Linked DNA regions of Homo sapiens. The protein of the gene in region 3 purifies or fractionates together with the protein of the main gene of each other region. This does not show direct contact. Each region holds a gene or a part of one and is shown on either strand. Other genes may lie near its edges. The genes, in order: PPP3CA, PPP2R2C, PABIR1 and PPP2R2D.

What was found.
Region 1: the proteins of PABIR1 (region 3) and PPP3CA purify together in Homo sapiens (affinity purification with mass spectrometry; 3 studies listed by BioGRID and IntAct, with this or other methods). This does not show direct contact.
Region 2: the proteins of PABIR1 (region 3) and PPP2R2C purify together in Homo sapiens (affinity purification with mass spectrometry; 4 studies listed by BioGRID and IntAct, with this or other methods). This does not show direct contact.
Region 4: the proteins of PABIR1 (region 3) and PPP2R2D purify together in Homo sapiens (affinity purification with mass spectrometry; 4 studies listed by BioGRID and IntAct, with this or other methods). This does not show direct contact.

What each region holds. Positions count from the first base shown.
Region 1 is NC_000004.12:101,092,509-101,099,544, reverse strand, and holds part of PPP3CA (protein phosphatase 3 catalytic subunit alpha), read left to right. Parts: intron 1-1,032; coding exon 1,033-1,178; intron 1,179-5,629; coding exon 5,630-5,769; intron 5,770-7,036. UniProt on the Homo sapiens protein: Calcium-dependent, calmodulin-stimulated protein phosphatase which plays an essential role in the transduction of intracellular Ca(2+)-mediated signals. Many of the substrates contain a PxIxIT motif and/or a LxVP motif.
Region 2 is NC_000004.12:6,469,592-6,477,307, reverse strand, and holds the start of PPP2R2C (protein phosphatase 2, regulatory subunit B, gamma), read left to right. Parts: upstream 1-4,693; 5' UTR 4,694-5,078; coding exon 5,079-5,148; exon of another isoform or gene 5,149-5,196; coding exon of another isoform or gene 5,197-5,224; intron 5,225-7,716. UniProt on the Homo sapiens protein: The B regulatory subunit might modulate substrate selectivity and catalytic activity, and might also direct the localization of the catalytic enzyme to a particular subcellular compartment.
Region 3 is NC_000009.12:68,783,014-68,786,087, forward strand, and holds the end of PABIR1 (PPP2R1A-PPP2R2A-interacting phosphatase regulator 1), read left to right. Parts: 3' UTR 1-2,553; downstream 2,554-3,074. UniProt on the Homo sapiens protein: Acts as an inhibitor of serine/threonine-protein phosphatase 2A (PP2A) activity. Inhibits PP2A activity by blocking the substrate binding site on PPP2R2A and the active site of PPP2CA.
Region 4 is NC_000010.11:131,938,998-131,946,033, forward strand, and holds part of PPP2R2D (serine/threonine-protein phosphatase 2A 55 kDa regulatory subunit B delta isoform), read left to right. Parts: intron 1-1,033; coding exon 1,034-1,199; intron 1,200-1,584; coding exon 1,585-1,697; intron 1,698-1,770; exon of another isoform or gene 1,771-1,795; intron 1,796-4,970; coding exon 4,971-5,148; intron 5,149-6,297; coding exon 6,298-6,462; intron 6,463-7,036. UniProt on the Homo sapiens protein: Substrate-recognition subunit of protein phosphatase 2A (PP2A) that plays a key role in cell cycle by controlling mitosis entry and exit. Involved in chromosome clustering during late mitosis by mediating dephosphorylation of MKI67.

The DNA.
Region 1 (7,036 bases), on a different chromosome or scaffold from region 3:
AGATACATACAATATGATCTATTGCCTAAAGTCAAAGACTTAAAGTGACACTCTTTCATATTATCCTATATTTCTTTCTAAGCATGGACATTTATGAGAATTCAGAATTTCTTTTTAAATTAGAACTTCTTTATAAAGTGATTGAAGAATTTGAATTAAGATTTGATGTAATTTATCCTAAGAAACAAGTGATTTAGGGATGCTACTGTTTGGAACAATAATTCTACTCATTAATCTCACATTACTCAAAAAACGCAAATGGAGGGCAAATTCAACCCTATGCCTCTGTTTTGGACCCAATAAATGAATACTAGCTTCTAGTGAATCTTATAAAACTGAAGATGATGTCATTCTTTAGACATAGACACTAGGAGTGTGGAGTGCTTTTTTCAATTTCTTTTTCCTCCTTACAATTTTTCTTATTATTCACTGAATCTTACAAAGGTATAAAACCTTACATTTTTGTTTTATGTATAAATACAGTTAAATGGAAGAGCTGGGAATCTCTCTATACATATCAATATTTTTCTCTTTCATTTAGTCCTATATTCAATGGAGCATAAAGACTTCTCCTCTTAAAACATTAGATATAAGTCATGGGAAAAGCAATGTGCAGTAAGATAGAAACAGCTTTAGGAAATGTCTTGCCATCTGCTTTTCTACAAAATCGTTAAGGAATATCAAGCAGCTTTATGGCTGTTTTTCTATTGGTCTTCCAGTTGTTCATGTACATTTTTTTGGTGAGACGTCTGCAGATAAATAGCCAGAATGTATATAAAAATTCTCTTGCTATACAAAACGTTATGAAAATTATAAAGTATGAATTAATAAATGACAAAAACAGGAAATACTAGATATAAAAGATTAATATGTTACTTTCAGAAAATCTTAATTATGTTTTGGAATTTTGTAGTATGTGCCTTTATGTTAATAATAGGGTCCTAGCAAGAAAACTTCTCAAAAAACCAAAACTATTTCAGTGAAATGATCCTGCCTATAAATCATAAGTATTCTTTTAATCACTTCTAAAAGGTAAAATAAAGTATTCAGAACGCGTATATGATGCCTGTATGGATGCCTTTGACTGCCTTCCCCTGGCTGCCCTGATGAACCAACAGTTCCTGTGTGTGCATGGTGGTTTGTCTCCAGAGATTAACACTTTAGATGATATCAGAAAAGTAAGTTTTGTTATTTTCCAAGTCTAATCATTTTGTGCGCTACAGTAATAAATAGAAGACATTAATTACCCTGCCTTTATCACTGACTTTATTCTTTTGAGTTCAAATAATTTAAAGTGGTCATGAATCGCTCCTTTGTGTTAAATTTTTATCTAGAAAGAGAGATATGTTTATACTTGGAAGAATTTTTATCTCTACAACCTCAGGGTTGGTCTTACCATCTGACATGTGTCTTTGGAAATATAAAATATTTGACCTCTAAAAAAAATATGCCTTATCATTTCCATTTGGCTTTTTTCAAACAATCCGTTGTATATTCATGATGTGTTATGCTAGAAATGTTGCTTTGCCCTTGGGAAAATATCATAACATAACCATTAAACTGTGCTCATTTTATGGTTTTTTAAAAATCTATTTGTTACAACTTGAGACTTTTAAGTAGCAATCTAACAAGGACAGTGATAATATTTTATTAATTTTACTGAGTGGCTGAGTGAAAAACTGGACTTTTTAAGAAGTATTTGTAAGAAGTTTTTAAGAAATACTCCAGTTTAGCATTGGCTATTAACAGTTGTTTAAACCAGCAAAAAGATGAGTTACATTGAATGTGGAAGTGGATTGTGTCTCTTTCTTGAGTAAATCTAGTAACATGGGATAGTTTTATGTAGTACAATAGATAGACAATCTTTTATTTCTTTGGTATGTTTCTAACTCTGATTGCAATGATGTAAAAGATAGAGAGTAATAAAAAATCGCAGTGTATTTTTCTTGGTGCCAAAATCGGACCAAAGGGAGAAAGTGATGTAAATGTTTTCTTAGGTCATTTTAAAATAATATTACTTGGAATTATTTTAAAGTATGATAATTTCTTCACATTGATATTTATAACATATGTTATTGAAAATTTGTGCCCACCATTAAGCTTTCTATCTAGGAAATCTAAGCCAAATTTTTTCTGGAGGAATTATAAACAGTTGAAAACTGTATTTATCTTCTTTCCTCTACTTTTAGAGACCTAAGAAAATACGCTTGTACTTATCCCATAGAACAGAGGGGTGAAAATAATTCTAACCTTTTATTATTATTCTCACCAGTAATTTTAGCAAGAATAAATTGGTCACATTGTTCTAAATTACTGTATTTGAACTATAAAGATTGGAATTTTGCTGAGATTTCTTCTAAAGATACATACTACTCAGTATATATTTAAGCCTAATGTATGATAGGTAGACTTTGGCTTCAAATAAGTGATGCACTAATCTCAAGGTGTACAGAATTTATTTCTTAAGTTATAGGTTCACTTAAGAATAACCATGGGCACAGTTCAAATTCTAGATCTTGCTTATCATTAGGGGCATTCATACAAAGACTCCCTTGGTGTCACTTGTTTGATTGATTGCCATTTAATTGTTTTTTTCCATTTCTTCTGAGTTTGGAAACTTGATTGCTAAGTCTGAGAAGTCTATATGATGAACATTTGCAAGTTAATTCTATCAGCTGCCATAAGTTATTAAATTAGTAAACAGTGTTTTCCCATTGTGTTCAGTGGAGAAGGAAAGCAAATATTTTATCTATTCATGTATCCATGTATCATATTAACCTGATAACCACTTATTGAAATAGGTTTGGAAAATGAAAAGTCAAATTACAAATAAGTATAGTAGTTTCTGTTAGCAAATGATGGGCATGAAAGACATGCATTTATGTTTTATTCTCTTGCCTTGATCAAATTTCATGGCCTTGGATGGAAGATGAGAAACTTACTAAGTGTCCTCCTTCAAAGGGGGATTAGTGAAAACTTCCCTCAAAATAGTGTTTTAATTATTTGAACAAAACTGATACACTGAATAGAGTTCTATACTGTAGAGAATAAATAGAAAGGATAAGGCTATTGTACTATTTTGTTTAAGACGCAATCACCAGCAAAAAGGTTGTAAACCTCTACTACAAAATGAATAACCATTTTCATATAGCTCTCATTTGTAGTGTTTCTTTAATACTTTTGTTAATGAAACTCATGGTTTTGAGGAAATACTTTAGTAAATTATGAATGTATTTGCATACCATAAGTCTCTACTACCATGAACTCAATATTCTTTTAAAGTTCATTAGTTTTTAGAGAAAAATTATTTTCAGGTAAAATAAAACATTCAAGTTCTTCCTATCATTGAGGTTCAAGTGTTCAAGTATAAAAATAATGTGTTTACTTTCCTATTGGAAAGAAAATGCATGCTTTTTATTTTAAAATTCAAGCGAAAGCACAATAAATAAACCTTGTTTCCTGCTCTGTGTCTTTGTGTCCATTTTTGCAAGACACTATTTCACACTTCTATAGAGCATAGAGCATTGGTCTTTGCTCTATATTTAAAGTACAGTAGAGATGTGATGCTGGTTCAGTATAAAATTGTTTCTTTCTGGGCCAAGCATGGTGCCTCACGCCTGTAATCCCAGCACTTTGGGAGGCCGAGGCAAGTGGATCATGAGGTCAGGAGTTCGAGACCGGCTTGACCAACATGTTGAAACCCCATCTCTACTGAAAATACAAAAATTAGCCAGGCATGGTGGCGCGCGCCTGTAATCCCAGCTACTCAGGAGTCTGAGGCAGGAGAATTTCTTGAACCTGGGAGGTGGAGGTTGCTGTGAGCCGAGATCGTGCCACTGCACTCCAGCCTGAGTGACACAGGGAGACTCCGTCTCAAAAACAGAAATGTTTCTTTCTGCATGAATATAACTAGCTCATTCTGTAATCTGATGGATTTTTTTTAAGTAAATAAACTTCACATCGTAAATTAAGTAGATTTTTTAAAATATCACCTAATATCCCTAGGACTTACTTCCCAGGATATTTTAGATATTATATTCAATTTTCATACATATCATTAAGCTCTGCACATGGCCAGAAAATGATTTTTAAGTTTTTATCTTGCCATATATCAAGTTTTTTTGTATTTGTTTATTTTTACTGTCAATTATATTAACTTTTAGAATGCACTGTATACTTTTTCCAGAATAAATGTTATATTCTGGTAGCTTTGCAGACCTTTAGTTGGGGATTCATATTAATCAGAAACTTTCCCCTCCTCTACTGTCCTACCCTTAATAAGTTATTGTTTTTCAGAAAGAAGTTCTGTATTTTTAGGGACAAGTATTATTTTTCTTGAATGTATTGTTCCAAGAGCATAAATTATTTAAATCTCTTAAACAAGTTTAAGTTTGCAATGAATATTTTGTGGCTAACATAATGGTTGAAATGTAGTCTTGTTTTATTGAAGTTTTTCATTGGGTATTGAAAACATAAAATATTGCCTCATTCTCTATAGATACTAATAAAAAGTAGTGTGCAACAAAACCATTACTTACATCTTGTATGTCCCAGAAAAAAAAAATAGACAATTTGATTAGTTGTAAGCAAAATATGTTCACTTGTCTTCATTGGATTTTTAAAAATATCAATATGAAGAATATCAATTCTTAATAGATTTTCAAAGCTATTGCATGCTTTTATTCAAGAGCCTTTATAATATCTGCTGATTCACCAAAGATCCTTTAATTGCAGTTAAATCAGGATAAACTAAAGTGTTTAAAATTGATCGTGATATGTTATTTCCAGTGATGATATTTCTAATATGCCTTCTAAATGCACCTTTTAAAATTGAAATGTGACTTCACTAAACATTTATAGCTGGAAAATTGATTTCATATGAAGGCTTCAGGTAAAATTATAAAGCTTAGAACTGTGAACTGAAGAATGACCCGCTAAAGTTGAGTTTATTTTACTGCTTATCATTACTCATATTTGTACCCACTAAGATCAACTACAGGAGGCTTGTAGTTTATCATTAGAAACCTAGATAGCCCATAATGAAATAGTATCCAAAATATCATATAGCAAGTGGCTACTTTTAAAGTAAAAGCCATCTTTTCTCAAAATCATGTTCTTAAATATAAAAAAATAACATAAGCATGAAAACTAGGAGTTGTTTTCCATCCAAACTTCTAAATCACAGTTTAATAGAGGCAGTAATAGGAATTTTCCCAAAGAAAGTAATTCTCAATAAATGAAACAGGGGTAGAGTCATAATAACTGGTCATGAAAAAAACATTTGGATAGATAAAGTAAGTAAGGAGAGAAGGATAAAATGTAGAATAGGAGAAATGAGAAACTGCGAAATCTAGAGATAATAGAGGCAAGAGGAAGGTAAAGGGTTAGATGAAGATAGATACTAAATGATCTCATCAGAAGGAAGCTGGAAAGAAAATTGGAGAGAGATGAAGGATAGGAAAACGAGTAGGAAGAAGGACAGGAAGAGAGAGAGAGGTAGAGGACATTTCACCCTGAGCTGTAGCTGGGGAGAAGAGGATGGGTTCTGCACAGTGCTTGTTTCTTGTATTGTCAGAATTCTAAGTTTCCAAAGATTAGTATTTTGCTCTCTGTCTTCTATTTTTCTTAGTTAGACCGATTCAAAGAACCACCTGCATATGGACCTATGTGTGATATCCTGTGGTCAGACCCCCTGGAAGATTTTGGAAATGAGAAGACTCAGGAACATTTCACTCACAACACAGTCAGGGGGTGTTCATACTTCTACAGGTAAGAATAGAGAACTTGCTCTCTGGAACACGTTTGCATCATAATGCTAGGATTTATCAGTCCATGTGTTTGATTTATTTATAATGTTTGTATTACTTCTTTAATATAAATGAAAGGCTCACTAGCATTTATAAAATGAAAATATAAATAAATGAATAAGTGAGTAAATAAATGTGAAATAGATATGTATACATATACAGGTGTACCTTGGGGATGTTAAGGGTTTGATTCTAGACCACCACAATAAAGCAAATATTGCAATAAAGCAAGTCATTATTTTTTTGGTTTCCCAGTGCATATAGAAGTTATGTTTACACTATACTGTAGTCTATTAAGTGTACAATAGCATTGTATCTAAAAAAAAAAAAACAAATGTACATACCTTAATCAGAAAATACTTCATTGCTAAACAATGCTCATGATCATCTGAGCCTTCAGCTAGTCATAATCTTTTTGCTGGTGGAGGATCTTGCCTCGATGTTGATGGTTACTGACTAATCAGGGTGGTAGTTTCTTTCTCAAAAGAAGACATTTATGTGGCCAAAAAACAATGAAAAAATGCTCATCATCACTGGTCATTAGAGAAATGCAAATCAAAACCACAATAAGATACCATCTCATGCCAGTTAGAATGGCGATCATTAAAAAGTCAGGAAATGGATGCTGGAGAGGATGTGGAGAAATAGGAACGCTTTTACGCTGTTGGTGGGAGTGTAAATTAGTTCAACCATTGTGGAAGACAGTGTGGCGATTGCTCAAGGATCTAGAACCAGAAATACCATTTGACCCAGCAATCCCATTACTGGGTATATACCCAAAGGATTATATATCATTCTACTATAAAGACACATGTATATGCATGTTTATTGCAGCACTATTTACAATAGCAAAGACTTGGAACCAACCCAAATGCTCATCAATGATAGACTGGAGAAAGAAAATGTGGTACATATACACCATGGAATACTATGCAGCCATAAAAAAGGATGTGTTCATGTTCTTTGCAGGGACATGGATGAAGCTGGAATCCATAAGAACTATTATTTTTGCCCCAATGCAACAAAGTATCACAAGAACAGAAAACCAAACACCTCATGTTCTCACTCATAAGTGGGAGTTGAACAAAGAGAACATATGGGCACAGGGAAGGGGAACATCACACACCAGGGCCTGTCAGGGGGTGGGGGGCTAGGGGAAGGATATTATTAGTATAAATATCTAATGTAGATGACGGGTTGATGGGTGCAACAAACCGCCAGGGCACATG
Region 2 (7,716 bases), on a different chromosome or scaffold from region 3:
TCCATGACTAAAGCTAAACAAACAGACCCTATCACTCAGCAATTCCTAGAATTTCTTTTGAAGAGAATCTTGCTGTGTGGCCCAGGCTGGAGTGCAGTGTGGCACCATCCTGGCTCACTGCAACCCCTGTCTCCAAGGCTCAAGTGATCCTCAGCATCCCGAGTAGCTCGGACCACAAGCATGCACCACCATGCCTGGCTAATTTTTGCATTTTTTTAGTAGAGACGGGGTCTCCCATGTTGCCTCGGCTGGTCTTGAACTCCTGGGCTCAAGCAATCTGCCTGCCTCAGCCTCCCAGAGTGCTGGTGATATGAACTGCTGCACCCAGCCAGTTCCCAGAATTGTGTACACATGAATGCTGAGCCACAGAATTGTTGTTCATAATTAGCCTCCACACTGAACAAACAACCTATGTGCCCAACAACAGTGGGGTCAGCTGCAGTGTATTTCTGCCATAGAATATTACACAACAATGAAAAATGAATAAATTACAGTTACATATATATAAATAACATGAGTGCTTCTCAGAAAAAAAACATTGTGCAAATGAAAGCAGTTATGAAAACATTCCTACCTTACAATTTACTAGTAAACTAGTAAAACTACAGTGTTAAAAGTCAAGATGGGGGTTATCTTTGGGGTGGTGTCTTAGTCAGTTTGGACTGCTAGAACAAAAATACTGTAGCCTGGACGGCATAAACCACAATCTATTTTTCACAGTAATGGAGGCTGGGAAGTCCAAGGTCAAAGTGCCGGCAGATCCTGTGTCTGATGAGGGCTTCCTGATTTGTGGATAGCCAACTTCTTGTTGTGTCCTCATATGACAGAGAGAGAGGGAGAGGGACAGAGAGGGGAAGCAAACTCTCTCACGTCTCTTCTTATAAGGCGGCTAATCCCATTATGAGGGCCCCACCCTTGGGACCTAATCACCTCTCAAAGACCCCACCTCCTAAAACCATCACATTAGGGGACAGGATTTCAATATATGAATTTTGGGAGTCAACAGCTGTTCAGTCCATGGAAGTGGAGAGAGAGGGGAGTGAGGGAGGCCTCGAGAGGTGGCTAGCGCCCTTTCCTGACTTGGTGGTTAGATGAGTGTTTACTTTGTGGTCGTTCTTCAAGCTGAACAGTTAACTTTTGTGCAGTCGGCTTGGGCTGCCATAATAAACAAGATAGGATAAGTGGCGTAAACAACAGAAATGTACTTCCTCCCAGTTCTGGAGGCTGGAAAGTCCAACATCAAGGTTCTGGCCAATCTGGTTCATGGTGAGGCCCCTTCCTGGTTTGCAGGCGGCCACTGTCTCGCCGTGTGCTCCCGTGAGCACCTGGGGAGAGAGTGGGCAAGCTCTTTGGTCTCTTCCTATAGGGGCACTAATCTCTCCATGAAGACCCCACCCTCATGGCCTTGTCTAACCCAAATCTCCCAAAGGCCCCACCTGCAAACATCATCACATTGGGGGTTAGGGCTTCAGCCTGTGCACTTGAGGGGACATGGTGCGGTGCACAGCACACTTTCCATGCATGTTCTCTCTGTCAATTACAACAAGTTGGGGGCACAGAAGCACAGGGAGACATAGCCTGGTGGGGCCGTCAGAAGGAGTGGAGCATGTAAACCTGCTGAGAAGTGGCAGCGAAAGGTGGTGCCACTGAAGTAAAGGGAGGCGCATGGTCCACAGGGTGAGACCACGAGAACTCAGCATAGAGAGAGGCCAGCATGCGTCCACTGGTTCCAGGAACAGGAAAGTCATTCTCATGCCGTCTGACACAAGTTTCTTTTCTGGGGTGGGATGGATGGCAAGAAGCCAGGTTGGAGGGCACGGCAGTGAGTGAGGAGATGGCGAGTGTAGCTGTACCCTTTTGGCATTGTGGTTGTGAATGGCAGAAATGCAATGTGCTGGTGGCTGAAGGGACACGGAGTGAGGATAGCTTTTGAATGTGGAAGAGACCCAAGCAGGCTTACGCTGTGAGAAGCATCTGGAGAGATGCTGACAAATTTCACCTTATTGAGCTTTCCTCTACACTCACCTTTATAAAATGGCACCTCCTCCTCCCCGTTCCTTTCTATCTCCATCTCCATCCCCGCCTTCATCTCCATCTCCATCCCCATCTCCATCCCCGTTCATCTCCATCTCCATTCCCGCCTTCTCCTCTGCACCAGTCATGGCCCACACAGTACATGCTCACTTTATGCTGTCCATCTCACCCCACTGGGAGGCCAGCTCCACGAGAGCAGAGCATTTCTCTATTCTGTCTTCCACACTACCCTAGTGCTGGGAACATGCCTACACATAGTAGATGCTCAATAAACATTCCTCATTGAATGAATGAAAGTACAGAGAGGAGTCTGTACAGAGAGGCTGGGGGTGGCAGGATCTGGAGCTCAGGCTCTGTCAGCGGGGGCAGGGCTGTGTGCAGATACAGATGAGGAAGCAGCAGATTGTGTGATTTAGTGGAGGTGGGGGGTGGGCAGGGGGCTGAGGGAGAGTCCTCGGTTGTGCTGGAGGGGGAGGGCTTCCAGGAAATGGAGGAGACAGTGTGGAGGAGCCCAGACACTGCTTGTGGTGGGGGTGGGGCAGGATGGGGTGGTGAGGGGTGAGGAGGGGATGGATGCAAGCCTTGGGGCCCAGTCAGGTTGGAAAGACCACCCACTGCAGGGTCCCCAGCATGGCTCAGAAGCTGATGAAAGGGATGATGTACTGTGTCAGGCCAGAGTGGGGCTGTTTTCATTGTAGTCCAGGACATCCCGGGAGATGAGGCTGATGCCAGCATAGGGTGGGTGTTTTGGCAGGATTGACAGATAGGGAGAGGGGACTTCTCCATGATCAGAGAGGGAGGCTGAGGAACATGCGGGAGGGTGGGCCTCAGCATGATAACAAGAGAGCTCCCAGGAGGCCTGACCCCTGCTGAGCAGGACTGGCCACCCCAACCCAGTGGGGCCACTCCTGCCATCACATCCACTTTACAGATGAGGTTGTGCCTGGGCCCCCTTGTGGTCAGGACTTGAACCCAGCCTGTCTTTCTCCCAGCATAGCCATTTTGCTGGCTCCAGCTAGAGAGGTGAGGGGGTGTGGACAGAGAGTGGGGGGCTGGCCTTAGGATGTGAGGTGGGGGGCATGTGAGCAGACAGGTGAGAGAGAGAGAGGAGAACATGCCAGGTGGGTGGGGGCCAATGTGGGTGTCGGTCACTTTCCTACGGGGTAGAAAGTGACAAAGAACAAGCACATCCTTCCGGCCCTTGCATTTACCTGGTCCTTGAATGGAGTCTGCACAGCTGGGAGATTTTGGCTTGTTCCACAGTGAAAAGGTAGAGGCTGGAACAGGGCAGGGCACTTGCCAAAGCAGGTGCTGGCAGGGCCCCAGGGCCTCTCCCCAGGCCAGCCCTTGCATGACAGCCTGCAGAGTGCTGGTGGGGCTGCTGGGGGGCTTTCATCTCCTCATAGGTCCATTCTGGGGATTTCAAAGGCACGAAAGCTGTAGCTTCAAAAACTCCCTCTCAATCTCCAAGAAATCTGAGACGGCATCACCTTCCCTCGTCTTTCCCACAGCCCCAGTCTCCCTGCCCCCAACGCCTTTGGACTCTCCTACCTCCACTGCAGTTTGGGGAGCTGTCTGGAGTTCCCCCAGAACCATTTGAAACAAGTGGAGGCCATTACAGACCAGCCCCCACCTGGAGCATGGCTCCACTGATGCCTTAGACCCAAGAGCCCCTGCAGCTCTGGTCACCCCACTGCACTTACCCCTCCCAGGCAAGCCACAGAGTCCCTCGCTTTCCAGGAAGGCTCTGTTGAGCTCCTAGGGAGGGCTGATGGTTCCTCACCCACACCTCTGAATCCCCACTGGGGCTTGTGTCCCGTGCAGGGGACTGTGATTCATTAGGCGGTGGGTCACGGTGGAGGAGGTGGCAGCTTGGCAAAACAGGAGGCAAATATTTTTTGAGGGCCCACTATGTGCCAGGCTGATTACCAGAGGGAGGTTCCTGTTTGGCAGAGCCCTGGGTTTGGAGGGGAGGGAGGGAAGGGAGGAGGGGGACGCATTTTCCAGCCTGGTTTTGGAGGTACCTAGCTCTGTATTTCTTTAACTTTCTCACTCGTCAGGAGAGGTGGGCATGAGGAGAGATCTCAGAGCCCTGCCTGGGGGAGGCCCAATCACCCCTCCAGCCATTTCATCCAGTTTTGCCTTGTCGGCTGCTGGACCCCCTCCACCAGCTTCTTCACATGTACTTAATGCTCCCAACGGGCCCCAGAACTTGCGCGACCCACCCTCTTCTACTAATGAAGGGAGACAGTGTCCTTCCCCTCCCCCGAGTCCCCATTCTCCAGGTGCGCCCTCTTCAACTGCGACCCCACTCCTTCCTTCCTAGTCCTTTCTGCCTTCTGCCTGCGAGGCTGCTCTCCTCCTGCCCCCTTCCCAGCACCCCGGCTCTTGGCCTTCTCTCCCATAACTGGAGCACCTGGGCACCCAAGGTACCCTCCCCCCAAGCTCAGCTGATCACCCTCTCCCCGCAAGCTGGCGGTCTCCTTCCTCCCTCCCCCGTGGCGCACCCAGCACCAAGGTGCCCACCGCGAGGGCCCGAGCACGGCGGTGCAGCCTCGGCTTGGGCGCCGGCTCCACCTGCAGGGCCGCGGGGGCGGAGAGCGGGCGGCGCGAGGGAGGGGCCTGCGACAGCGGCGGCGGCGGCGGCCCCAGCCCGCGCAGCCCGGCTCGGCCCCGGCTTGGTCGGCGCAGCGCAGCGCCGCGCGCGTCCCCTCGCCGCCGTCGCCGCAGCCAGGCGCACCGGCACCAGGCCCCGCCGCCGGGCGCACGGACGCAGCGCGCACGGGCCGGCCGGGATGCGCGCCTGGGCCCCGGCCCGCCCGAACCCGCGGCCGCCGCCCGCCCACCGCGCGCTCGCTTGACCGCGGCGCCCGCCCCCGGCCGCCCCCGCCCGTCCCCCTGCCGCGATGCCCTCCCTTCGGGGCCCCGGCGGCCCGCGCCCCTGCTAGGCTGCGGCGGCATGGCCCGCGCGCCCGGCGCGACCTCTGCGGATTGCATCGGTGTGTGGCGGCGGGGCATGCCCAGAGCACCGGGCACGGCCTTCAATGGGCGAGGACACGGACACGCGGAAAATTAACCACAGCTTCCTGCGGGACCACAGCTATGTGACTGAAGGTAACGTACGTGTTGTCTGAGACCCCTCCGGCCGGCCGCGGCGTGGGGATGCCGTCGCACCGAATGCCCTCCGAAGGTTTGGACCGCGCGATGTGTGTCGTGTCCCCCCGCCCCACCCCACCCCACCCCATCCCACCCCACCCCACCCCATCCCATCCCACCCTGCCCGGGGCCCAGGAGGGAGGGAGCCCGAGGGTACCGGCCTCCGCTGCCCAGCGCCGGCACAGGGCAGCGCCCTCCTCCGCGCCGCCCTCCGGGAGGCAGCTTTCCTCTCCCAAGCCAGGTGGCATCCTGATTCGGCCCTGACCATAATTTTTTAAAAGGCCACGGCTGTGGCTAATCTGGTGAAGAAATCTCGGGGAAATTTAATGGTTTAAATCCTGGATTTGCCATTTCAGCCCTGCCCAAAGCCCGCAGAATTTTCTAGGCTGCCCTCTCCCTGGAGAAGAAGAGGGACCCGGGGGGAAAAAAACATAATCCATTGCCAGATCCTCCTGGGAGGCCCGCCTGCCCGGGCCCCTCCCTGTCCTCCAGAGGCAGGGTCCCTGAGTGGGAGGGAGAAGGCGGCTGGTTTGGGGCTGGCCTTTTTATTCCTGGTGAGTTATATTGAGACAGGAGCAGCTGGGCTAACTGTCGGGATTTTCCAAAAAAGTGGGACATGCCATCCCAAACAGGCCCTGTTTAAAATCCCCTAAGTTGGCCCTACAAGCCCAACCCCCACCCCCACCCTACCCCCGAGGCTGGTGGGTCAGCGCCCCTCTCTTACAGGCCTGGAACTTCCGGGGGCCCCCTGGTCTGCCTCGCTAGGGGAACAGTGGGGACAGCTTCCGTGCGCAGGCAGGGCCCGCGGAGTGACCCCGATGGAGGATGGGGACCGGGAGGTCTGGGCTCGGGGCCGCCTGTGCTGGAGCCCTGCCCGAGTGCGGGGACTGTCAGCCGCTAACCCACGGGCTGGCGGCCCGGCCGCAGAAGTGTGCGCGGATTCCCCGGGTGGGTGCCCCAGTGGGAGGGGCCCTGGGCACGGGTCCCGCGGGGCAGGTGCGCGTGGGTGCCTGTGTCAGGGAGACCGAGTGGGCCAGGCGGCGGAGACCGGGCTCCTGCGGCTGGGTCCGCCTCCTCGAAGCCTGGCTCTGCCGGAAATGAGGCCGAGCGGAGCCGGAGCCCCGCGGAGGCCCGGGGAGCGCAGCGCGAGCGCGGGCGCGGGCGGGCTCGGGGCGCCCTGGCCCGGGAGGCAGAGGCTGGGCGTGGGACCTGGGCGGAGGGAGGCTGCGGGGGCCGCGCCCGCTCCCGGCGGGAGAACCGCTGAGTCACGCACGCTTCGCCGCCGGGTGTGTGCGAGAGAGGGGCAGGGCTGCCCGGGCCTCCGGGCCGGTGGGGCTCTGACCCGGCCGCGGCTTTGGGAGGCCCGGGGAGCTGAGAGCGGTCCTTTGTCGCCTGCTTCGGCGAGGCTGAGTCGGGATCAGCGTGGGTCCGGGATGTGGTTTCTGCTCGCAGCCTGCAGCGACAGAGGGTTGGAGGAAGCCGCCGGGTTGCTGGCCCGTGCCTCGGTGGCCTGGCTCGGGCCGAGAGCGGATCTTGGCAGGTTGCCCCGCTGCTCCCAGGCTCGCTGTGGTCTGGCTTCCTGGAGCAAGCCTCTGTTTGCTCATCTCTACGTTGGGGATGACGGTGGGATGGGGCGCAGGGCTCGTTGTGGGACCAGGCGTAAAAAGCGCCATGGTGGACATTTTCAAACATTAATTCCCTCTGCACCCTGCCCGTCCCCTTTTCTTTCATAAATTCACCAGCCCTCAGCAGGGCACAGGAACGGGGACGGCACAGTTCTGGAGGTCAGAGCAGTGCTATCCAATCCTTCATCCAGACACGAGATATTTACCGAGCACCTGCTGCATGCCGGGCACTGTTTTATCCCTGGGGACTGGACAAAGACTCCCTGCCCTTGTGCGGCCTGAATTCTATCAGGGAGCTATATGACCTTGAGGTCTGTCTTCTCACCAGGGCTCAGTCTCCCCATCTGTAAAATGGGAGTGAATCCTGCCTACAGGGTCTGGAGGTTTCTGTGAGGAGCAGGTGCAACGGTGTTGAAGGAGCCGTTCAGAGCTATGCATTGCTAACGTGCAGCCAAAGGATGCTGAGCACCTGCTGTGTGCTGGGACCTCATACGAAGGCTCACCTACGCCTTATCCCCACCTTGAGATGAACAAACCAAGGCCTGGCCTTGTGCCTGGTCCAGACCGAGTGCCAGTGTGTGCAGGGCATAGGGCTCAGGTGCTGCGGATGCAGAGAGCAGGATCGGAACAAGAAACAATAATAATCATTATAATAGGTAGAATTCTGGCCTCCCTAATGAAAAACACACTTTCACACTGTTGCATCCTGACTATATTTCATGCTCAGAGCACAGGGAAGGTCACAGATTTGAATGTCAGAATGTCAGACTTGAATCATGTTAAAGTCCTGCCTCTGACTCCTGACTGCTGTGCAGCCTTGGACAAGTTACTACACCTTCCTGAGCTTCACTTTCCCTTTGTAAAGGGAGAAATAATAACGACCTTTCATACAGGGTTGCTG
Region 3 (3,074 bases):
ATTTTGCCTTAAGTTCTTGCCTGAGTGATCTCCCAGCCTGTCTTCTGTCTCCTTTTGGTTCAGTCTTTATACTGCCTCTTGAGTAATCTTTCTGAAATTTAAACTTGATATTTTTCGCCCTCTTGCTTGAAAACTTCACTTGCTTCCCCATTTCCTACTCTTTAAGGAATGATTTCTTTAGCCTCAGATAGAAGGACCTTTATGATCTGGCCATATTCTGAAATAGCTTCAATCCTCTCCTCATCTCTGTTCCAGTATACATCTTTCCTTCTTATTCTGCAAACATTAGACCACTTGATATTCTTTAAATATGTCATGTACTTTTCTTGTGTCTGTTCTTTGGGATAATTCCTATCCTTTTCAGGGAGGCAAATTGCACGTGAGTTTAAGTATGAAGGCAATGTATACCTGCTGATTGTAAAATATTTAAACATTGTACATATCTGTGTGGTTTTAAAAGTCTGCTTTTAATTATGTAAAATTCATCTTCCCTTTCCACAGATAACTTCTGTTAACAACTTGATATCTATTGTACAAGATGTGTTACTGGCATTTCCATGTATATATGTATATAAATGCAGGAAACCAACATGTCATTGACACCTCTCTTCTTTACTTTTCCCCATATCTAATCATTCCTCAAGTCTTACTGATTTTTATCAGCTAGAATCTATCTCCTTATTTCTACCTCTATTGCCACTCTGATCCAGGCTACCAGCATTTCCCTCTTAGGCTTCTGAAGCAACTTCCTAACTCCCACTTGTGCTCCTCACACTCACTCTGGTCGGCTATCCATTCATTCTCCATACAGCAACTAGAGTCATTCTTTTAAAATTGCGGACCTGATCCTTCCATCTCCCAGCTGAACGCTTTTCATTTGCTTCCTGTTCTCATGAGTATGCCAAAATGTATTAATTCTGGGCTAGGAGGCCCTGAGGAATTTGGTCCTTCCCTCCTCCCCCCTCGTTTTCTGTGCTTCGCCCTCACTGGCTTGCCTTTCTTTTCCTTAAATACATCATGTTCTCTCCTATTTTAGATCCTTTTCCCCGAAGGTATGGAAACATTATTTCTGTAAGCTTATTCTTCTATATAGATGGGAAGTTTTTAAATCAGATAAGGTTCTAAGGGCATGTGGACAATTTACGTTATCATAGTATTGTTCATAACGTCCATCATTATTCTGTAGACTGTAAGGGCTTACTTAGCTCGTGTAAGAATTATCCTTCAAAAAGCATTTTTAAGGTATTAGTATTGCTAATCTATAAACTTTGTGCAAGAAGTCCTAAAGTCAATAGCAACATTTATTTAAAGTACAGTTTGTCATACTTAATAAACCTCTGGTATATTTTCCTTTATTATGCTTGTTAAAAACACAGTATAAATGGGAGAAATCATTAAAGATCATTAACTCCAAGGCTGCTGGATGTTAGGACCCTTAAGCATACTTAAAAGATTGATTGTAATCAAGAATAACTTGTATCAGATTGCCTTCCAGTGATTCACATTTATTAGTTCAACCAGTTACATACCTGTAGCAAGAGACCAGTTTATTTGGCAATAAAATTGGGGAAGGAATCAAGACTTAAATGAGGAAAGTGAGTCTGAGAACATTTTTTTTCAGGGTGTGTTTATAGATTAGTAGAACAATTTTGAAGATCTAACAGAGGTGGGAGTCAGGGGAATGGTTGCCAGACAATTGAACCAAGAAGATGATGATCATTTCTTGAGTAGCACCAGAGAACAGAAGAAAGAGTTGGCCTTGGAAAGGAGGTCTGGAAACTTATTTTTCTTCTGAAACAGGAGGGAGAGTGAAAAGGCTAGGCAAAGATATCCATAAATGTTGAATTGATTTGTTGTTGCAGGGGTTTAGGAGTATGGAGGTAGGTATATGAAAAGTAGAATTTGTTTCTGATTGTGCCTATTTTCCAATTATTGAGGAATCTAAGATACATGAGGATAGGGACAGGAGATCATTTGGAAGCTTGAGTGCAGTAAAGGTTTAATGTTGCCTCTGAGAATCTAAAGGAGTAAGTTAAGGACAAGTAGAAGGCTTATTAGGCTATGATGGATGCCAGGTTGCAGTTGGATGGCAGGCACAAGGAAGTGGGTTGGATTGACTAGGTTTGGGAATTGGTTAAGTGGGTACTAGGTAAAGCCCAGTGTGTGAAGTAGTTAAGGGTTCTGCTGAAAGTGTAGTTTGAATGATTGGCTGAGGCATTGAGGATAAGAGAAGGGAGCAGAGGCTTATGGACTAGACCACTTTTTTCAGGGCTTTACCTTATCAGCCATGACAAAGTATAGAGAATCTGGTCTCAATGTAGGTCTCTCACTCCAGCAGTTTTGCCCACATTTTTCATGGCTGTTAGAGAATCAGGGCTGAAGGCAAGCCTTGAGTGCCACTTACTTGGTAAAAAATTGTGTCAGATTGCTCACTGTAGCCAAGACAGAGTTCTTTGTGGCTTCTGTAACTTGCCATCCAAGTAAAAAAATTTTCTTAAAAGTTGAAATGACCTTTGTATAAAAAGTAATAAAATACTTGCTATGTGTCAGGGACTGTTCTAAGTGCTAAGCAAATATATCAATGCATTTAATCTATCACTATCATCTGAGGCAAGTGCTATCATTATCCTCATTTTATAAATGAGGAAATGGAGACACAGGTTGAGTTACTTGCCCAGGATTCCAGAGCTGGGAGGTAGGCAGCGAATTGTGGTGGTTAGGAATATAGACAGTGGAGCAGGGTGGCTGTGGTGAGGATTGAATGGGTTCGTACACAATGTGCTTACAAAGATGCTGGGCAATTAGCATCCTTGATGGATGAAACTCCTGCTTTCACACTCAGTTAACAGTACAATATCCTTCAAAGCAGGCTATCCTTTTATGAAGCGATTGTTTCTGATGTTAGCCTTTCTTATAGTGAACAGACATTTCCCTCTAACTTCCACCATTCAATTCAAGTCCACCTTTGGCAAATGCAAAACAAGCCTTATTCTTCTTTTTATAGGTGATAGCCCCCTTCTAGAAATCAGAAATACTGATCCTTCTCTAATGACTACTTCTTCCTTCCAGATTTT
Region 4 (7,036 bases), on a different chromosome or scaffold from region 3:
ATGGTGCAGAAGCAGCCAGAGACAGTATGTGCACACATGGGCCTGACTGTGTTCCACTAACACTTGCCTTAAATACGGCAGGCTGCATTCAGCAGACCTGCTCCAGAAAACACGGCAGGCTGCATTCGGCAGACCTGCTCCAGAAAACACGGCAGGCTGCATTCGGCAGACCTGCTCCAGAAAACACGGCAGGCTGCATTCGGCAGACCTGCTCCAGAAAACACGGCAGGCTGCATTCGGCAGACCTGCTCCAGAAAACACGGCAGGCTGCATTCGGCAGACCTGCTCCAGAAAACACGGCAGGCTGCATTCGGCAGACCTGCTCCAGAAAACACGGCAGGCTGCATTCGGCAGACCTGCTCCAGAAAACACGGCAGGCTGCATTCGGCAGACCTGCTCCAGAAAACACGGCAGGCTGCATTCGGCAGACCTGCTCCAGAAAACACGGCAGGCTGCATTCGGCAGACCTGCTCCAGAAAACACGGCAGGCTGCATTCGGCAGACCTGCTCCAGAAAACACGGCAGGCTGCATTCGGCAGACCTGCTCCAGAAAATACGGCAGGCTGTATTTGGCAGACCTGCTCCAGAGAACACGGCAGGCTGCGTTTGGCAGACCTGCTTCAGAAAATACGGCAGGCTGCATTCAGCAGACCTGCTCCAGAAAACACAGCAGGCTACATTCGACAGGCTGAATTCGGCAGACCTGCTCCAGAAAATACGGCAGGCTGCATTCGGCAGGCCTGCTTCAGAAAATACGGCAGGCTGCATTTGACAGACCTGCTCCAGAAAATACAGCAAGGCTGCATTCGGCAGACCTGCTCCAGATGCATACCTAGAAGTGGAGTCGAAGAGTCGGAAATCAAGTTCGTTCTTTTTTTTTTTTTTTTCCCTGAGTTTCATCTGAGATTTTTTTGAGCCAGGATTTTTTAGCTTTAAAAAATATGTATGGTCATTTGATATTCAAATTTATAGTACTGAAATTTTCTCTACACTGTGCTTTGTTCATTAAAACAGCTCTCATGTTTCCTTGCAGAATAAAAGCCGCCCTCATTCTAGGGGAGAATATAATGTTTACAGCACCTTTCAAAGTCATGAACCGGAGTTTGACTATTTGAAAAGTCTAGAAATTGAGGAAAAAATTAATAAAATTAGGTGGTTACCACAACAGAATGCTGCTCATTTTCTACTGTCTACAAATGGTAAGAATTGTGTTCTAAGTGGCTGTTTGATTTAGTTTTTTATTTTTAATTTTCTGTGTGTGTGTAGATTCCTTTTTATTTTAGAAGTTATTCCTGCTTTAAATTTTGGGGGGAGGGTAAGTTATCTAGGGTAGCAAGTGATAGGTTGAAAATTCAAAGTATGCAACAAAAACCACACGTGCACTTTATTATGCTGTTACTCTGCACGTCTGCACATCTTTCTTTATTGTACAAAACACCTCCAATTGGAAATATTCATGTTCAGAGACCCCATAGCTTATAACCCAATATAGGACCACACCGCTTTCTAATACCAGTACTCAAACAGTAGTGATGCATGTTATAGTTTTTCTTTTCATATGGAGAATGAGGTTTTTATTTTCAGATAAAACTATAAAATTATGGAAAATAAGTGAACGGGATAAAAGAGCAGAAGGTTATAACCTGAAAGACGAAGATGGAAGACTTCGAGACCCATTTAGGATCACGGCGCTACGGGTACACGTTGCCTTTGCTTTATCCAATGCTGTTGAGAAGTTAAGAATAAACGTTTCAGTCTGCTGTCTGGAGAGTGCTGCGCGGTGGAGTACTGTGAGGTCTGCTGTGAGGTCTGCCTCGTGATTCCTGAAAGTCGTTTGCACTCATGTGTGTGTTTAAAAGCAAGGTCTTTCTCCTGTTTTCACAAAGGCAGAAAGTCACATGTGGTCCTTAGGAAACACAGCAATACTAAGGGGAAAACTCATATTTAATTCTACAGCAGAAATCTTTGTGGACATAGCAACCACCCTTCTCTCAGAAGGTTCAGAACAGCACCTGGGAGGTTGGAGTTCAGATGAAATTCAGAACACCTCACAGGTGCAGTAGCACAGGTTGCAGGTCGAAAGATGAGCTGTGGGCCACAGGTACATTCAGGACGCTTCTCGGGGAATTTCTTTGGGGTTGGTTTAGGCAGATGCTGATGGTTCAGAACTCTCCACCTGTCCATCCATGAGCATCATTACTTTTTTAATTGTTAAATTATTTGCTCCATTGTTGGTAGTATGAAATGATCATATTTCATCAATTCTGATGCCTAAATTTTTTCATATTTTAACATTTATGAAACCGGCTAAAACTCAAAACCTCAATGTCTTATAATTGGCCTGGTGCTACGCACCACTGATGTTGTCTTAAATTAGATGGAACATGGTGAAGGGTGTCCGGCAAACTGGGCTCGAGCCCAGGTGTGTCTTGGTGAGAAACCAGCACCTGTGCAGAGGTGTGTCCCCTGGAAGGAAACTCTGCCTGGTCCCAAGGGGGTGCCGTTACTAGATTGGAAAACCGTTGGTTGTTTGGGTGGTTGGGTGGTTTGGTTGCGGGGGGTGGGTGGTTGAGTTGGGTGGTTTGGTTGGTTTTTAATGAGATTTCAGCCCCTTTTACACTATTGTTTATCAAGTGAAGACTGAGTGAGTGAGCCCATTCCACATTAGTCTTGGAGAGTGCTACAGAGGACGCTGTACCGCAGAAGCCTTTCCCTAACACATGTGCCTCTGGGAGTGATGTTGGGTCTGTTCTGATGCCATTTCTCCAGCTTTGCCGTGTGGGGTGGCTACACCTGGGGTTGTGCATTCCTCAGGAGGAGTGTCCTCAGACTTCTCACATCGATGTTGTCACCGTATTTCCTATGAGTTCATCAAAGCGAGAAAGGCTGTGGCATTTGCTGAAAATCTAGTTTATAGGGTCCTAATTTGAACCAAGATGTTTTGATCCAAAATGTTGGTGATGTCTGATACACAGTGCTGCCGCCTTTGCACCCCTGAATTAGTGTAAATCACTTTTAGTGACAGTAACACGAGTTGTGCAGTTCCATCATCATGAAACTGCTGATCCTAAAGTAGAAGTGTGATGGGACCCCCGAGGGTGGGCACTTGACCCCCTCCAGCCTTGTCCATCTCTTCTGCAGCCAACACCACCTCCCACCCAGTTACCTGTGCACACCCCACCCTCAGAAACCCCTGTTCCTCCTGATCAGACCCTGCCACAACCCATCAGCTCACGTGCTCATTTTGGGAGAACAGTAGGCCTTTACTAGGCCCAGTCTTGGTTTTATTCAAGGCTGCTTTTGTAGGTTTAGCCTAAATAAAACGGGTATAATTGGTGGCCCTACTGAAGGTGTGTGAGAAGTCTAGTTATTTCATTAGTTGGTGCATGGGGAAGAGACCACAGACAGGTAATTCTGTACATTGACTTAGGTCGGTATTTGAGATCTTACCTCTCTAACAGTTCAGAGTGGGCTATTTATGTATCTGAGCCTAACTGGGTAAGAGTCAGACATGTTGCTGTTTTTAAATTTTTGCTCTTAAATTATTTTAGTGCCAGAAAAGGGATATAATTAAAAGAAGAAATCTTGGCCAGGTATGGTGGCTCATACCTGTAATCCCAGCACTTTGGGAGACCGAGATGGGAGGATCACTTGAGCCCAGGAGTTCAAAGACCAGCCTGGGCAACATAGCCAGACCCCATCTCTAAAAATGAAAGCAAATTATTTTATATGCAAATTAAAATGTTTTCAATAAAAGAAGGAATCTTTGTAAGTATTGCAGCTATCATATGTTTTGATTAATGGGAAATTTGTTAGAGGATTGGGGTAGGTGTGTGTTTTTAAGCCTGAACTTGGTAGAACTGACTCTTCTTGCTCTAGAGAATCCAAGGGTGTGGTCAGCACTACCTGGGTTAAAATGAGGGAAGCCTCCCTACACACACTTTTCCAAGTTGGTTTTTTACAGAATTCAGCCAGACAAGACTCAGTTGAGAGCTTTTCTTTTTCCCCTAAGCTTTCAAGGCTCTCCCTTTTGGTTTCTAATTACAAGAATAACAAAAAATACTATCATTAATTTTTTGTTTTGATTTTAAAGCTTATGTTTTTCTTCCAGCTGGATGTTAGTGAGACACAGGCCTTTTTCCTTTTTTCATGTGTGATGCTATTCCTCACGCCTGAGCTCTCACCTCTGACCATAGGCGGCCTGCAGCCAGCGCCCACTCCTCTCTGTCCTTTCTATTTCTGTGCGAATTGGGCTTCCCTAGGAAGCCTCCCTGACCACAGCACTCAACACAGAGATGGGGGCGGGAGGTACCTTCTACTTTTTGTTTTAACCTCAAGTGAAGTGTAATATATAATACATACCTCCAGATAAGACATCTGCCCTATAAGTGACCAGCTCCATGAATGTTTGTAGGGTGCACATGCCCATGTAGCCAGCCCCAGACCAAGAAATGGAATATCCTCAGCTCCCCAGCACCCTGCTGTGCACCCTGCCAGTACCTGGAGCCAGTGGAGGTTTGTGGGGTTTGCACCGAGAAGCATAGTCCTAGTGCAGTGAGAAGAGGTGTGTGCATCTAGCTGCAAGGAGAGGACAAAGGGAGGGGTGCAGCTGAGCCACCCAGGAGGACTTTGCTGTCCAGCGCCTCAGTGTGGCCACTGGAGGACACACAGGAGAGGGAGCCGCAGGCCTCGGTGCCTGGGCAGTTTGTTACCCTGCCAGCTGATCTTCTCTTCAGCAGGAACATGTCGACCTCGGTAATGGAAGCAAGGGGAAGACTTGGAATAGACAGTATTCCATTTTGTAGCATATTTTCATAACTCTGCTAATTGGTTATTTGGGGGTATTGCCTGTACAGAATTATTACTTAGCCATGAATATAAACTTGTCCTCTTTCGTTATCTACTATAAGTGTTCTAATTATGTGCTGCTGTGATCTTTGTTTTGAATTCCTATTTCCTTCCATTTTTAGGTCCCAATATTGAAGCCCATGGATCTTATGGTAGAAGCGAGTCCACGGCGAATTTTTGCAAATGCTCACACATATCATATAAATTCCATTTCAGTAAATAGTGATCATGAAACATATCTTTCTGCAGATGACCTGAGAATTAATTTATGGCACTTAGAAATCACAGATAGAAGCTTTAGTATCCTTCCTCAGAGGGACACTGGCGTCTTCCCGAGGGTGCTCTTTAGATAGTAATTTCTCTCGTCCCTTTATACACCTGTATCTCGGAGTCTAGTCTTGTAAATACCATCACTGCACAGCAGCCTGTGATGTAAGTTCTCTGTGATTTGAAATGTTTGTCCCTAAAAATACAAATTTCTTTCTACCTTTGGGAAAAAGTTATCTGTATAATGGGAATTACCTGAAGTCCACTGCCTGCCTGGTTTAATCAGAGGCAGTTTTAAATAGGCTACATTTGAAAAACCAACATTATGTGTTCTTTTTTTTTTTCTAAATTTGCTAATGAATAATAGAAAATACTGGCTTAGGTTAGAGCAGTGTTTAATCACCCATCTGAGCAGCAGCTTCCAGTTAGAACCTGTGTTCTTCTGTGGCTGTGCACAGTCTGGGTGGCCCCAGCCCTCCTCACATGGGCCCCTTTCCAGCCAGCAGCCGGGAGCATGGGGCTTGCTTCGTCTGCAGCCTCTCCAGGGTCCCTGCCGTCCTCCCTCTGCTGTCCAGTGGCTTGAGCTGGGGTTCCATGTCGTATGTTGGTTTTCTTAGTTGTTTCAGCTTGAAGGGTGAAACTGGGACTGCTAGTCTGAATTGGCCCACAGCTGAATTCTGCCCTTTCTTATTTTTTTCAGTTGAAGGATTTCTGTATAGGATTTCTGTTGGATCTGTTCTAGCTACACAGAATAAGCTCTTCATGTCAGGAAGAGCAGCATCTTTTGGAATTTGGCGGCATTCTTGTGTTGTAGTTTTGTGTGGGAGTGTGGGATTTTGCACAGATGGTACTAGCTTGGTTTTCCTATTTATATGATTAAGTATGTACTATCTTGCTATTAAGGGCTTTCTGTATAACATTAATAATAGCAGCAAGATGAAAGCGGTGTTCGCTTGTCTGTGTCTCCCCCTGGGCCGGGGCGTTGCTGTAGTCTGAGTGTGCTCATCCCAATCCCCTTACCAGGCGCTCCTTTGGAATTCGGGATGTGTAACCAGCCTTCTTAATAGCTAATCCCTTAAACCTCACTGCGTGGATTATTTGGCGTCCTATTTCGCGTGACTGAATGTAGACTAATTAACAACCAGCTGAGCTGAGCACTGTGCCTTAACCATGCACTCCCAGACATCGTGGACATCAAGCCTGCTAACATGGAGGAGCTGACCGAAGTCATCACTGCAGCCGAGTTCCACCCGCACCAGTGCAACGTGTTCGTCTACAGCAGTAGCAAAGGGACCATCCGCCTGTGTGACATGCGCTCCTCGGCCCTGTGCGACAGACACTCCAAGTGTAAGTGCGTCTGTTGTTGAGATGGAGTCTGGCTCTGTCACCCAGGCTGCGGTGCAGTGACACAGTCTCGGCTCACGGCAAGCTCCGCCTCCCGGGTTCCAGCAAGTCTTCTGCCTCGGCCTCCCGAGTAGCTGGGACCACAGGCAGGTGCCACCATGCCCAGCTAGTTTTTGTATTTTTAGTACAGACAGGGTTTCACCATGTTGACCAGACTGGTCTGACCTCAGGTGATCCCCCTACCTCGGCCTCCCAAAGTGCTGGGATTACAGGTGTGAGTCACCGCACCTGGTCACGCCTGGCGTCTTTTAAAGCATCTCATTTAGAGCCACTTGTTCTTCAGACACTCCAAAGACTTAGAGAGTTCTTCCTGTTCCCCAAGTGCCTTTGCACAACTGGGGAGCCCTCCTTTGCTGGGGCCGTCCGAGTGTGGCTGTGTCAGAGGCTGCTGCTAATAAGTGGAACTCGAGGTCATGCTTCCCACAGGCTTATGGCTGTAGGGTGAGTGTGCTTTTGGCACCACCGAGAAGCGGGGTCACTTCTGCCCAGAGCCTGGGTGTCTCCTCAGAGGCTGCCA